2 linked regions of the Homo sapiens genome follow. The protein of the gene in region 2 interacts with the protein of the main gene of each other region in a biochemical or structural test. Each region holds a gene or a part of one and is shown on either strand. Other genes may lie near its edges.

Region 1 (7,538 bases), on a different chromosome or scaffold from region 2:
AAATGGTAAGTTTAATGGCTTTAATATGGCAAAGTTTAGTGCTTGAAATGAATTAACTAAAATATATACAGCTGTATCTTGTGATGTGAAAGCAAAAGAGGCCAATTCCTCTTGTATATACTTATGAAAAGTCACATGGTAAAACTGTTGGAAAGTGACTGATTTTTACTGAAATCAAAGTGAGTATGGGAATCTAAAATGTATCCAGAAGATACATTAAATTGTGATGTTTCATTTTATAAGTGAGTGCAACTAGCATTCTTTTAAATTATAGGTTCTTCAGGTGATTTCAAATATAATAGGGCCCTCTGGCACTGGCTCATCTGTCATTCATAGGTTATTTTAGTATTCCGTAGGATGCAAATGGCTTACAGTCACAAGATGTAATTTGCCTCAGAGGGCCAGGCACTCTTATCATCTCACTTTTTATTGTAGCTTCTATTCTTACTTACCCATATTCTTTTACCCTTTTCAGTCTGAGAAACTTTTCCTTTACTAAAATGATAAGAGGCGAAACAGAGGAGAATGGATTTTCAGTCTCTCTCTTCTGTTAATTTACCACAGACTCGAAATAGATTTCATTCCTCGTTTTTGTTTTCTTGGACCTAACAATTTTTTTTTCTACCCTTAGGGTTTCCCCCAACTTCAGCTCATTGTAGACTTTCTATTTTCTGTAAATCAATGATTTATCTAATTAAAAATGGAAATTCATTTTATCTAGTTAGCTATTACCATTTTTCATGGCACTAAATTATCTATACAGAACATAATTCCAATTTAAAATTTTGATGTGAAATTAGTGTAATCCACGCTTCTTTTTATTTTGGAAAATTTCAAACCTAGAGAAAAAAAATAAACATGTGGACCCTCCTCCAACTGATTCACCCATTTTTAATATTTTGCCATATTTACCTCCTTTCTCTTTTTTCCTTTTTTTTTTTGAGACGGAGGCCCGCTCTGTCGCCAGGCTGGAGTGCAGTGGCGCGATCTGGGCTCACTGCAACTTCCGCCGCCTGGGTTCAAGCGACTCTCCTGCCTCAGCCTCCTTTCTCTTTCTTACCTATATACATGTATCAATGTTTATATGTTTTATATATTTTACAAATGTATTTCTCTTACTCATTTGCAAATAACTTGTAGATCCAATTCTTCTTCATCCATAAATGTTTTGACATAAAATTCTCAATTTAAGGACAATAACATTATCACATTTAAGAAAACCATATTCCATTATACTATCCAATATCCAGTCCAGATTCAAATTTCTGCAATTGGCCACCAGTAATTATTTTTTTCATTTATTTTTTAGATCCAGGATTGAATTTTGTTTTCATGTCTCTTGCATCTCTTAAATCTGAAATAATATTTTTTTTTTTTTTGAGACAGAGTCTCGCTCTGTCGCCTAGGCTGGAGTGCAATGGCGCGATCTCGGCTCACTGCCAGCTCGGCCTCCGGGGTTCCCGCCATTCTCCTGCCTCAGCCTCCGGAGTAACTGGGACTACAGGAGCCTGCCACCGCGCCCGGCTAATTTTTTTTTTTTTTGGTATTTTTAGTGGAGTCGGGGTTTCACCGTGTTAGCCAGGATGGTTTCGATCTCCCGATCTCGTGATCCGCCCGCCTTGGCCTCCCAAAGTGCTGGGATTACAGGCGTGAGCCCCTGCGCCCAGCCTTCTTTTTTTTTTTCTAAAGAATTATTTCTGGCCGGGCGAGGTGGCTCACGCCTGTGATCCCAGCACTTTGGGAGGCGAGGCGTGCGGATCACGAGGTCACAAGATCCAGACCATCCTGGCAAACACGGTGAAACCCGGTCTTTACTAAAAATACAAAAAATTAGCCAGGCGCGGTAGCAGGCTCCTGTAGTCCCAGCTACTCGGGAAGCTGAGGCAGGAGAATCGCTTGAACCGGGAGGCCGAGGTTGCAGTGAGCCGAGATCGTGCCACTGCACTCCAGCCTGGGCGGCAGAGCGAGACTCCCGTCTCAAAAAAAAAAAAGTCTTAAATTACATTTTAACAGTCTAGGCCAGAGGAGAATATGCCTCATTGTGGATTTATGTGCCTGCGTCTTCATGTTTAACTTGCTCAAATATCACCTATACGTCCTTTACATTTCTTCTTACATCTAGACCTTAGCATTACTGACATTCTGGGCCACATCATTCTTTGGAGTTCAGCGATGTCCTGTGCTTTGTAGGATATTTAGCAGCATTCCTGCTGCATCCCATGAGATGCATAACAACACTCCTACCTCCTCAGATTGTGACAACCTAGACATTGCTAAATGGATTTGGGGGTGTGGGGGTTGGTTTAGGATCCACTGTCCACAAGCTTGGTTAAACTCAGGTTAAACCATTTTGGCAAGAATACTTCTTAAGTGATGTGTATGTCTAGTTGCATTACATCAGTAAGCAGAATACATTAGATTGTCCCATTATTAGTGATTCTAGCTTTGATCTCTTAAGGCAGTGATTTTTTTTTTTAAAAGGTAAAGCTACATTTTCCCTTCTGTAATAAGTAAGTTATGGCTTGAAACTTTGAGACCATGTGAAGATCCTGTACTCCTAGTCTTTTACCCTGTGGCTTTTAGTATCGTCTGATAAATTTTCCTCTATCAATTGTGGTTGACTTGGAAAACTGTGATTTTTCTAATTCTATCATTTGTTCTACATTTACTATCTTGTATTGCTCTGAAAGAAAAGATTTTGTCCTCCTTCATTTTTGGTGGCACTCCGAAGAAATTCAATGTGTTTCATCAATTATTGTCACCATTTTTTGGATGCTCATGTTGTCCCACATTTCTCCAGTAAAAAACCCATTCTTTAAGAGAATTTAGTGTTTTGTGGAGTACTTTATTATTGTAAGGACCATGCAGTGGTAAATCCTTACTGAATCACACGACATGTGAGAACAAATGACTTTATAACCAGTGAGAAATTCTGATGATTGGTACAACATATTTTCATAGTTAACAGGTTACACTAACTGAAAAATGTAAATAATTGGTAACAGAAAATTCTAACCGCCAATAAAAATTATTGGCAATTTATTTTTGAGTCATCTATTTACCTTTAAAATGGCATATCTATTCCTGGCTCCTGTATATGATGGCCGATGACTATAAATTGAAATATACCTGTAGCATACGTATGACTTAAACACTGCATACTACTGCACATTGCAGCGAACAGGATGGAGCTACTTGTGATCTAAAATTATCTAAACAATATACTTGGGAGCAAATCTCAATAGCATTCCATCTAACGAAAGCATCGCGATTTTATAACTATGACTTTTGGGAAGACCAAACGGAATACCCCAGCTGAAATGAGAAAAATCTGTATTAAGGAATTTTAGCTCCACCCAGGGCAATTATCCCCTTCCTTCCGTAACTGCCAATTTCCTCCCCAATCCCAAGAGCGCCTCTGCCCAGTTCCGCAGTCTCTGCTCCAAGTCTGTTTTTGATGATGCCCTTAGAAGCAGGGGCAGCGGCAAGCGGCGGAGATAGGGATTAAGTTCCTAACAGTCTTCTTCCCCTGACCTGGCAGATGGGGACGCTGCCCCTTAGAAGCCTTTTTCCCCGCAATACGGGACGCCGCAGAGGTGAAAGACCAAGAAGGTGGAGCAAACTTTTAGGGAGCGCCTCTTGGGCCCGCGTACCCTTCCGCCTGTTCCTCTCTGATTGGCCAGCGTGAGTCACGGACGCCCAATCGCGCGGTAGCGTCCGCCGTGCCGCTGGGCGACGGCGGCGCGCATGCCCACTCAGGGACCCACCCTGCGCCCCAGCCCTCTACAGCGCGGGCGAAGGGCATCGGCGGGGAAGCGGCTGTGGTTGCCAGATCTGGCAGTACAGAGCCAAGGTGGCAGGGCCGCGCTAGGACACGGATGGTCCCAGGGGGAGGGCAACAGGAAAAACAAGCACTGACACAACTGCCCCATTTCCCCATGTCCCCTAAAAGCAGGTTTTCTTGGGCTGACCAGGGCATTTTCACTGTGGTGTCCGACTGGGGCAACTCGATCTGCCCGCGGGGACTCAAAAAAGCTTGAGCTGCATTTTTTCTTTGCGTCCGGGCGGACCAAAAGGCGAGGTGAAGGGAACGAGTGTTTATAAGAAAGTAAACTTTTGTGCAGAATGGGCTGGGGACACCTCTGAGTTTTGCTGCCCGCAACGTGACCTTTTTAGCGCGGTCCTGGACGCGTTCCCTCGCAGCCAACCCGTCAGTCTCCTCAGGCCTTATCCTGCCCTCTCTGAGGTGGCCGCCTGTGGGCGCTGCAAACGCCACACTTTTGCTCTACGAAGAACCTCCTCGCGACTTTCCAAGGTGTGCAACTCAGAAAAGCGCCCCCCAAAACAAGTAAAAGCCTTCGGGGAAGAGGCAAAGTCCCTGAACCGTCCTGACTCCAGCCACCAGCCGGTGTTTGGTGGATCAGGTCCCGGAGCTCCGCAGCCTGGGAGCCCCACACCAGGCCGGCCCCTACGGCCGCTCAGAAAACGCGGCGAGCGGAACCCGCACGCGGAAGCGCCGGCCGCACTGAGCATGCCCAGTTGCAGAGCCGACCAGAGGAGTTTTTTCTTTTCTTTTCTTTTTTTTTTTTTAAGGGGGGGGGTCTCAAGTAGGAGGCCTCCCCATCACCCCCACCCCAGCCCCCCACCACCCCCGGCCTAAGCAGCTACCATGGCCCAGGTGGCCGGCGCGGCGTTGTCCCAGGCGGGTTGGTAAGTGGCGAGTCCCGCCGGCTGCCGGGCCGCGGGTGCGGGCCGGGGCCCCAGGGAGGTTGGGTTGGGGGCGGCGGGGTGCGTGTCGGGGTAGGCGGAGGCTGTCGTCCGCCCCCGGCCTCTCCCCGGGCCCTTCGGGCCGGCTCCGCCCCCGGCGCCACGCGGAGCCCTGCGAGTTCCCCTAGGTCCCCTGGAGGCGGCGGCGGCGGCGGCCTGGGCCCCGGGCGGCGGGCCTGGGCCCCGGGCGGCGGGCGGCGGGCCTGGGGAGAGGCCGGGGGCCGCGAGCCGGGCGGGTGGCGGCCCAGACCCCGGCCGACCGGAGCGCCGGGGAGGACCTGCAGCGCCGTCCGCGCGGCTTCTCCGGGGAGGGGGTGTTTCTGCAGCGGGATCGGGAGGCGAGGGCTGGGAACGAAGTGCGGCGGAGAGGGACGAACGCGGCCGGAGCCCGCGGGCCCATAGGAAGTTGAGGGCAGAGCAGAGCACAGCCCGCGCTGCGGCCGGAGCCGCCTCTTCTTACCCCTTATTTCAAAGTACAGTGTGGACCAGTGTGAATCTGCCTTCCGCGGCACACACACAACTTCTGGAGCTAAGAATGACCGCAATGTCAACTCGTGGGGGTGCTCGGTAGAACTTTTCTTGAAAGGATGGTGTTCTGATTTTAAGAGGCCTTTCGTGTCAAGATTTTCAGGATTTGAAAACAATACAAAATTATGCGAAATTAGGCAGTTTCTGGAATTGCGGCCATTACGGTTGTAATCATCCCGTTTAATTCAGTAACGCTTTTCCCAGGCTTGCACAGGCACATTCTGGGATGAAGGGTAGGAACGGGGATGAAAAAGATTTGCAACGGCTCTCTGCAATTACTGCTTTAGGAGAAAGAGTGAGGCATTAAAAGACCAAACAAAACCAGGGGGAATAGTGATAAACCGTACGTACAGAGGAACAGATGAGTGCACTGTGGAATGGGAGGGAGAGTTACTTTCCTAAAGTGGACTTGGAAAGATGGTAAGGAAAAGGCTTTCTAGCACAGAGCTGCTGGAGATGACACAGGGAAGCGCTTATTGTTTTGCAGAACCTACACAAGATCTATATGGTTCGTGAAAGATGTGGATTTGATTTTGTGAATAAAGTTTTTGATCAGTAGAGGGATATAATCACAACTGTGCTTTGAAGAAGCCCCTCCTGATTTTAAAGGCACTTGTGTTATTATACACCCCATTTTACAGGTGAGGAGACTGAGGCAAAGAGCTGTTAAGTAACTTTCCCAAAATGACATAGCTAGAAAGTGGTGGAGTTGAATGTTGAGCACAGAGGGCCTGGCTCTGGGCCTGGTTCCTTTAACGCTTATGCGTTATTGTTGTTACAGTTTTTTCGCAGAACAGCATGGGCGTAAAAGATTGTAGAGTTAAAAACACTGTCTTCAGTTTTGTTTCTGTTCAATAGGAATCTCTTCTTTCAGTTTTTTTACCCACAAGGGTGTCCTGAATAATCTTGGATCCCTCTTTCATTTGCCTTTCTCCCCATTTCTCATTAGGTTGAGCGTTGATCCTTCACACTAGTAATATTTTCATTTACAAACTCAGTATTTTACTGCTTTCCAACATGACCCCCCCTCCTTTGGAAAGATTAGTCTCATTTTTTAGGTCCCGAACACGTGTTGACTTTGTTTTCTCTGGCCTCTTATGCTTTTCCAGGGCAGGGAAGTGAGTCTTATTTTTCTCCTTATCTGGATTGTCAAGAAATGCACCAGATTGTAGGTTCTCTGTAAAGTCTAATACAGTTGACCTTGGAATGCCCCTGCCAGTCAGAATTCTCTGGGCAGGGCCTCTGCAGAAGCTTAGGTAGAGTCCCACCCTGCTTCGTTATATTGTTATAAATCTTCAGCAATGTTATATTGTAGCATTTGCTACTTTATATTGCAACTTAACTGTTTATGTTTCTCCCACCTGTCTGTGCTGCTTCTGTATGGCAGTGACTCATAAAGGCAGTAGTAATCTGCGGGGCTAAAAACACTATCTTTCTAGGAATTGTGAGTTTCATGTAATTCCTGCTAGGTCTCGAACAGACTAGGCATGAGGATCTCCTAGGCTTTCAGGTGGCTTCTACTAGGTCTTTAATTGGGGACTTACTATGTTAAAATTTAGAATCACAAAGGTTTAAAGGCAGAAAAGAGCACTGGAGGGAAAATTTCTGACTGAAGGGCTTTCACCAACTCATTTTAGTTCTTATATCCTGAGTTTGCTCTTACACTTGGGGTTCTCTGTTAACTGTCACTGACAAACCATTTTTCTTAGTATTCAAATCTATGTACTTAGTTACTTGTAGAAGCTAAAAAGAAGTAGATGCTAAAACATGGACACACTATTGTTAAATCTGTTCTATAGGCTTCACCTAAAATAGCAGATTAGGGAAATATTTAGTGCTGAAAAGTTTACAATTCTGAAAATGTGATCTTCAGGGGGGTACAGAAGATCTATGTAGACCAATCTGTTCAAGTTTACATTATTTTTAAGCGCAGTTTTTTTCCTTCTTAAGGTTTTAATCTTCATTAGAACCCCTATAAAAATCAGTATTTTAAAATATAACTTCAAAAGTAGCTACCTGGCGGACTTAAAATAATTTTTGTTCTTCAATGGCCAGTAGCACACAAACTATTAGATTTTGCTGATTTGAACTTGAATGTTCCAGGGCTTTCTACAGAGTAGTGATAATGTTTAAATAATGCACTAAATGGTACCTTGTAAAGCTTAATTATATGCATGGAATAACTTCACGGGGAGAAGAAATTTGACTCTGAATTTATCTAGATAACAATTTTACTCACTCTG
Region 2 (7,021 bases):
ACAACAAAAACAAATCAAACAATTGGGTTTGGGGCACATCCAAATAGCTAAACAGGTAAAGACTCCTGGAGGGTGGGTGTTTGGGAGAGGGCATGGAAGCTACCCCTTCCCCACATCCCTTGCCCTGTGCATTGCTTCCATCTGGGTATTCACCTGGATCCTTTGTAATTAACGGGTAAGCATAAGTAAAGTGTTTCCCTGAGCTCTGTGAGCCACTCTATTGAGAATCAAACCAAGGAGGGGGTCTGAGGAACCCCAGTTTATAGCCAGTCAGTCAGAAGCACAGGTCACAGCCTGGGATTTGTGACTGACATCTGAGGGAATTTGGGGCAGCAGTCTTCTGGGACTGAGCCCTTAACCGTTAGATGGATCTCCAGGTGCATAGTGTCAGAATTGAATTGAATTAGAGGATGTCCAACTGGTGTGTGGCGGGAGAGTTGCTTGGTGTATGGGGAAAACTCCCATACATCTGGTGTCTGATGTGTGTTGTGAGACTGTAATAGAAGATAACAGTTTGTTATTTTCTGTTCTTTAGAGTACCCCATGCCAGTTGTGAAAAGGCAGGCATGAGCTAGTTTAGACTTAATACAGACAGACACTCCTGGAGTTTGTACATGGACCCTGTGCAGTTTTACTTTTTTTTTTTGAGATGGAGTTTCGCTCTTGTTGCCCAGGCTAGGGTGCAATGGCGTGATCTTGGCTCACCACAACCTCTGCCTCCTGGGTTCAAGCGATTCTCCTGCCTCAGCCTCCTGAGTAGCTTGGATTACAGGCATGCGCCACCATGCCTGGCTAATTTTGTATTTTTAGTAGAGACGGGGTTTCACCATGTTGGTCAGGCTGGTCTCGAAATTACAACCTCAGGTGATCCGCCCGCCTCGGCCTGGGATTACAGGCGTGAGCCACCACATTTGGCCCAGTTTTACTTTTTAATGTGGGCTGGTGACAAGCAGAAGCATCTGCCTGTATCTGGACTCTCCTCCCAAGAGTTGGTTCGGCACCAGGGCCCATGGTGAGCTCAGTCTTCTGTCTGCCGTCTGTTCTCTGCAGGAGGCCTGCGGCTCACTGACCAGCTGGTTCTCAAGGTCACGCCTGTTGTGTGCATGTAAGAGTGTTGTAGGTGCCTTTGCAGCGATTGCTGGCTGATGGGTGTCTGTCTTTGCCTTTTCTTCAGATTGGACGAGGCCTTGGCCCAGTACTTTGGGAATGGGACAGAGTTGGCCCAGCAAGAAGATATCTACCCAGCCATGCCAGAGCCCATCAGGAAGTGCCCACAGTGCAACAAGGACATGGTCCTTAAGACCAAGAAGAATGGCGGGTGAGTGCGCTGCCTTCTGCCCCCACCTCTGCTCCCCAGCACCTGCGGTGTCAGCCGTAGCTCGAAAGACCCTGCCATTTCACTCCATGGAATCTTTCAAGACAGGCCTGTTGTTGCCAACCTGCAGGCAAGGTGTTGGCCTAAAAGCATAGCAGGGTGGGATCAGGCCTTTGAGGTGTAAAGCACTATGGGAATTCAGAGCAGGTGAGAAACTGAATGATAGTGGGGTTTTTTTGTCCCCTGTGGATAGGACATCATATACCCAATGTGTAACACATGGAGGAGCATGAGCTTCAGATCTAGGTGGGTCTGGGTTCAAATGCCACTTATGCCGCATATAAGTGGTGTGGCCTGAAGCAAGTTACTTACCTGCTCTGAACCCCAATTTCTTCTTTTATAAAATGTCAGTACTTACAAGGCTGTGTTAAGGGTGAGGATTTGGTGAAAATGGTCAGGACTATATAGCACATTGCCTGATGTGTTGTAGATACTCAGCAGATACTACTTTTGTTCTCTCCTAGTTTTAGTTCTGAATGGGGCCTGAAAATCTCAACTCCCTTTTCGCTTTAAATATAGTAGATCTGAGTGGGCAATTTAGCTTCACATCAGGTTGTTGGAGCCAGTGGCTGGCCACTGGAGGAAGTTCACGGGGAAAGACGAGGTGGAGGGGTGGCAGCCATCATTCATCAGGTGCCGTCCCTCACTGGTGTAATGCAGGGTGGTGCTCTGTAAGCATTACCTCATCCCATTCTCCTAACTACCCTGCAAGGCAGGGATTTTTATGCAGCTTAGAGGGCTGAGGTGCTTGCTTGGAGTCAAGCAGCCGTGGTGGGCAGCAGAGTTTGAAACCGGGTTTTCACTGCCTTTTTCCATCCTGCCTGGCCCACCTGGGACTGCTGTGCTCCTTGCTGCTGAATAAGAAAGGAGGTTTCTCAACTCCTCACCTCCAGCCATCATTAACCTGGCTGGCCCAAGTGAAGAGAAGGCCACCCAGGCTCTCAGAAACAAGAGGTCTATGGGCCAGACCTGGAAGCAGGTGTCAGGGCTCGCGTCACTCACAGACAGAAGCCAGTGCCACTCTAGGCTTAGCCCAATGACTGGGCGTATATTTCAGCACTTAATAAATGCTGTCGATGGGTTTTCCTTGCTATCGGTAGGTTATTGGATTAGTACTCATTGGAATATAAGGAGAGAGAATAACTACTTTTGTTTTAGCTCTGAATTCTCCAATTCTCTGAATTGGAGAATTATTATTATTCTTTAGTTATTCGTTTGTTCTTCTGTTATTCTTTTGTAATGCTTCTCTGAGTTACTCCAGAAGGTCAGGAGATTATCTTGTGGGATTTGCCACTCCATGATTTATCTGTTAATTTCCATTTCTGAGATTGTAAATTTCTTATTTAAATGATTGGAGTTCGGGGCTTTTTTTTCCTTCATAGTGTACCCAGGCACACTCATGAGGAATTTGTAAATCACATGCATATTAGCTAGTCAAACCCTAACGTTTCATGACTGCAAGGTGTTGAAAAACATTGGCCAGGAGAGACCGGGATGGGATGGATGGGCAGTGGGTGGGGTGTAGATGTTGCAGGTGAGGCTTTGTCACAAACAGATGGGTTTCCATTCCTGGCTCCCATCCACACATGCATGCATGTCTCTGGGCAGGTTTCCAGGCCACACCAAGCCACTGTTTACTCACATGCAAACTGAGGGGGCCCCTGACACTGCCCAGACTTGGCACGAGGCAGAAAGGCAAGAATGTGTGAGTGCACAGCACAGAGCCCCTGGCGTCAGCTTGGTTGGTTGTTGGTTTTCTAAATAGAAAGCAGGGCCAGCAATAGCTGCTTTGTGCTTTTGGGATGTGAGAAGGCTCATTTTTCCCAATCAATTCAATATGAGTGCTTGTGTATCCAGTTAAGTGTCATCCAGAAAAGGGAATGTTGTCCTCGGGCAGCTGAGGAAAGGCTGCCTTAGCTGATGGCCAACAGCGGAGAGCATCTCCTGCACTCCTATCATCTGACATGGCACTTTGTCCCCAGGTTCTACCTCAGCTGCATGGGTTTCCCAGAGTGTCGCTCAGCTGTGTGGCTTCCTGACTCGGTGCTGGAGGCCAGCAGGGACAGCAGTGTGTGTCCAGTTTGTCAGCCACACCCTGTGTACAGGTGAGCTGGGCACCTGAGTCAGGTGCCTCCTCTGGAGTGTGTACACCATCTTTCCCTTGCTCCTGCCAGAACCCAGAGAGGAGTGTCGGGGATTCCACTCAGGCCCTGCAGGGGCGTAGCTGTGTTCTGCAGCAGCCAGTTCAGCAGGGCTGGTCCAGTTCTGTTGTGTTCCATGCTGTCACTGCTTTGGCAGGTATGACCCTGTTTGGAGTGGGCCATGGGCAAAGAACCATGAAGGGCTCTTTCCCTGCCCTCTCCAGATAGATGATTGCTACACCAGGCTTAGGAAATTATTCACATATTAAATACAACATCCAAGCTTGGGCTACGTAGCAAGACCCCATCTCTTTAAAAAAAAAAATTTTTATTTAAAAAAAAATTTTTTTTAAGACAGTCTCGCTGGGTTGCCCAGGCTGAAGTGCAGTGGCGCAGTCTTGACTCACTGCAACCTCCGCCTTCTGGGTTGAAGTGATTCTTCTGCCTCAGCGTCCTGAGTAGCTGGGATTACAGGCATGCACCACTATGCCTGACCACTTTTTGTATTTTTAGTAGAGACAGGGTTTCACCATGTTGGCCAGGCTGGTCTCGAACTCCTGGCCCCAAGTGATCCACCCACCTTGGCCTCCCAAAGTGCTGGGATTATAGATGTGAGCCACTGCACCTGGCCAAAAAAAATTTTAAATTAGCCAGATGTGGTGACATATGCCTATAGGCCAAGCTGGTCAGGAGGCTGAGGCAGGAGGATCGCTTGATCCTAGAGGTCTAGGCTGTAGTGAGCCATGATTTCACCACTGCTCTCCAGCCTGGAATGACAGAGCCAGACCCTGTCTCTAGAAATAAATGAATAGGCCGAGCCTGGTGGCTCAGGCCTGTAATCCCAGCATTTTGGGAGGCCGAGACAGGCGGATCACGAGGACAGGAGATCGAGACCATCCTGGCTAACATGGTGAGACACTGTCTCTACTAAAAATACAAAAAATGGCCAGGCGTGGTGGCTCACGCCTGTAATCCCAACACTTTGGGAGGCCGAGGTGGGTGGATCACGAGGTCAGGAGATCGAGACCATCCTGGCTAACATGGTGAAACCCCGTCTCTACTAAAAATACAAAAAATCAGCCAGGCGTACTGGTGGGCGCCTGTAGTCCCAGCTACTCGGCAGGCTGAGGCAGGAGAATGGCGTGAACCCAGGAGGCAGAACTTTCAGTGAGCCGAGATTGCACCACTGCACACCAGCCTGGGCGACAGAATGATACTCTGTCTCAAAAAAAAAAATTTTAATAATTTATTTCTAGTAAATGCATTGCATACTACTGTAAATAACTTGTTTTTTAGGGTAATAAAATACCTATTTTCAAAAGCAAAATAATAATGACATTAATGACATTGTTTTACATTTTGCAATTTGTATGTCTGGCTTAATAGAAGAGAGCTGGATTCCCGTATCTGCTTCTGCAGTCAGCCTGCTGAGTCATTGCATGTGCTGGAACCTCCAGGAAACTCCGTTGTATACACATGGAAGAATAAGAGCAAAATAGACATAACCTCTTAGAATTTTTTTTGAGACAGAGTCTTGCTCTGTCACCAGGCTGGAGTGCAGTGGCACAATCTTGGCTCACTGCAACCTCTGACTCCCAGGTTCAAGAGGTTCTCCTGCCTCAGCCTCCCGAGTAGCTGGGACTACAGGCGCGTGCCACCATGCCCAGCTAATTTTTGTATTTTTGGTAGAGATGGGGTTTCACCATGTTGGTCAGGATGGTCTCAATCTCTTGATTTTGTGATCCGCCCGCCTCAGCCTCCCAAAGTGCTGGGATTACAGGTTTGAGCCACCACACCTGGCCTATAAAAGAGTTTTGCACTCTCCTTGAAAGGGCTCAGGCACCCTGGAACCACACTTGGAGAACTGCTGATACAGAGACATGGGACTTCTCAGAGGTGTTTTTATTTTAGTGAATTACTGGGATCTTAGATTTCATCTGCACTGTTTCCCACTGTCCACTCCTGTGATGACTGGTGGGGGCTTGTGGTGGGCTGATAGAGGGCCTCACAGGGGACTTGTGTGGGCTTCCTGATGCATAAGGAATGGTGGAGAGAGGCCTAGGGCTAAAGCAGCCCTCACTGGACTAAGGAGAAGCTGGCATCTGGTTGTTAATGTTTTTTCTCATCTTCTGGCCTCACTAGGTTAAAGTTAAAGTTTAAGCGCGGTAGCCTTCCCCCGACCATGCCTCTGGAGTTTGTTTGCTGCATCGGCGGATGCGACGACACCCTGAGGGAGATCCTGGACCTGAGATTTTCAGGGGGCCCCCCCAGGGCTAGCCAGCCCTCTGGCCGCCTGCAGGCTAACCAGTCCCTGAACAGGATGGACAACAGCCAGCACCCCCAGCCTGCTGACAGCAGACAGACTGGGTCCTCAAAGGCTCTGGCCCAGACCCTCCCACCACCCACGGCTGCTGGTGAAAGCAATTCTGTGACCTGCAACTGTGGCCAGGAGGCTGTGCTGCTCACTGTCCGTAAGGAGGGCCCCAACCGGGGCCGGCAGTTCTTTAAGTGCAACGGAGGTAGCTGCAACTTCTTCCTGTGGGCAGACAGCCCCAATCCGGGAGCAGGAGGGCCTCCTGCCTTGGCATATAGACCCCTGGGCGCCTCCCTGGGATGCCCACCAGGCCCAGGGATCCACCTAGGTGGGTTTGGCAACCCTGGTGATGGCAGTGGTAGTGGCACATCCTGCCTTTGCAGCCAGCCCTCCGTCACACGGACTGTGCAGAAGGATGGACCCAACAAGGGGCGCCAGTTCCACACATGTGCCAAGCCGAGAGAGCAGCAGTGTGGCTTTTTCCAGTGGGTCGATGAGAACACCGCTCCAGGTGAGGCAGGGAGGGGCATGGGAATCCCTGCCTTCAGTTTTCAGGTGTTTACCTCAGAGACTGGGGACAGCAGAAAGAAGGCAAGGCAGGGTCATGGTGGGATTGGGAGGGGCACCTGGGCTGCCTTGCACCTCACTTTTCCTCACTTGATCACTTTCAGCAAGGTGATAATTGTACAGTCCTCATTCCAAATTAAAGGGTAGCTACCAGTAATGGTGTCACTTGCCCTATGCCTGGCACTATGCTAAGTATACTTCCTGTGCATCTTCCATCCTCATTGGGTAAGCATTATGATCACAATTTTACTTATAAGTGAGAAAGGTGAGACCCAGACACATGAAGTGGGTATTGCTCAGGGTCCCATAGCAACAGACACCAGGATGAGTACATAGGCCTTCCCAGTCCCATGGCCATGTGCCCTTGCAGCTGTCGTGACCCTTGGCAGACCATAAGCATCAGCCTCATTTCTTTTTTTTTTTTTTTTTTTTTGGAGACTGAGTTTTGCTCTTGTTGCCCAGACTGGAGTGCAATGGTGCAATCTTGGTTCACTGCAACTTCCACCTCCCAGGTTCAAATGATTCTCCTGCCTCAGCCTCCCAGGTAGCTGGGATTACAGGCATGCACCACCACGCACAGCTAATTTTGTATTTTTAGTAGAGACGGGGGTTTCACCCTGTTGG

What was found.
Region 1: the proteins of TOP3A (region 2) and TDRD3 are reported together in a solved structure, tested with the Homo sapiens proteins (one study listed by BioGRID).

Annotation. Positions count from the first base shown.
Region 1 is NC_000013.11:60,392,696-60,400,233, forward strand, and holds the start of TDRD3 (tudor domain-containing protein 3), read left to right. Parts: upstream 1-4,524; 5' UTR 4,525-4,669; coding exon 4,670-4,710; intron 4,711-7,538. UniProt on the Homo sapiens protein: Scaffolding protein that specifically recognizes and binds dimethylarginine-containing proteins. Plays a role in the regulation of translation of target mRNAs by binding Arg/Gly-rich motifs (GAR) in dimethylarginine-containing proteins.
Region 2 is NC_000017.11:18,276,995-18,284,015, reverse strand, and holds part of TOP3A (DNA topoisomerase 3-alpha), read left to right. Parts: intron 1-1,174; coding exon 1,175-1,318; intron 1,319-3,357; coding exon 3,358-3,480; intron 3,481-5,658; coding exon 5,659-6,341; intron 6,342-7,021. UniProt on the Homo sapiens protein: Releases the supercoiling and torsional tension of DNA introduced during the DNA replication and transcription by transiently cleaving and rejoining one strand of the DNA duplex.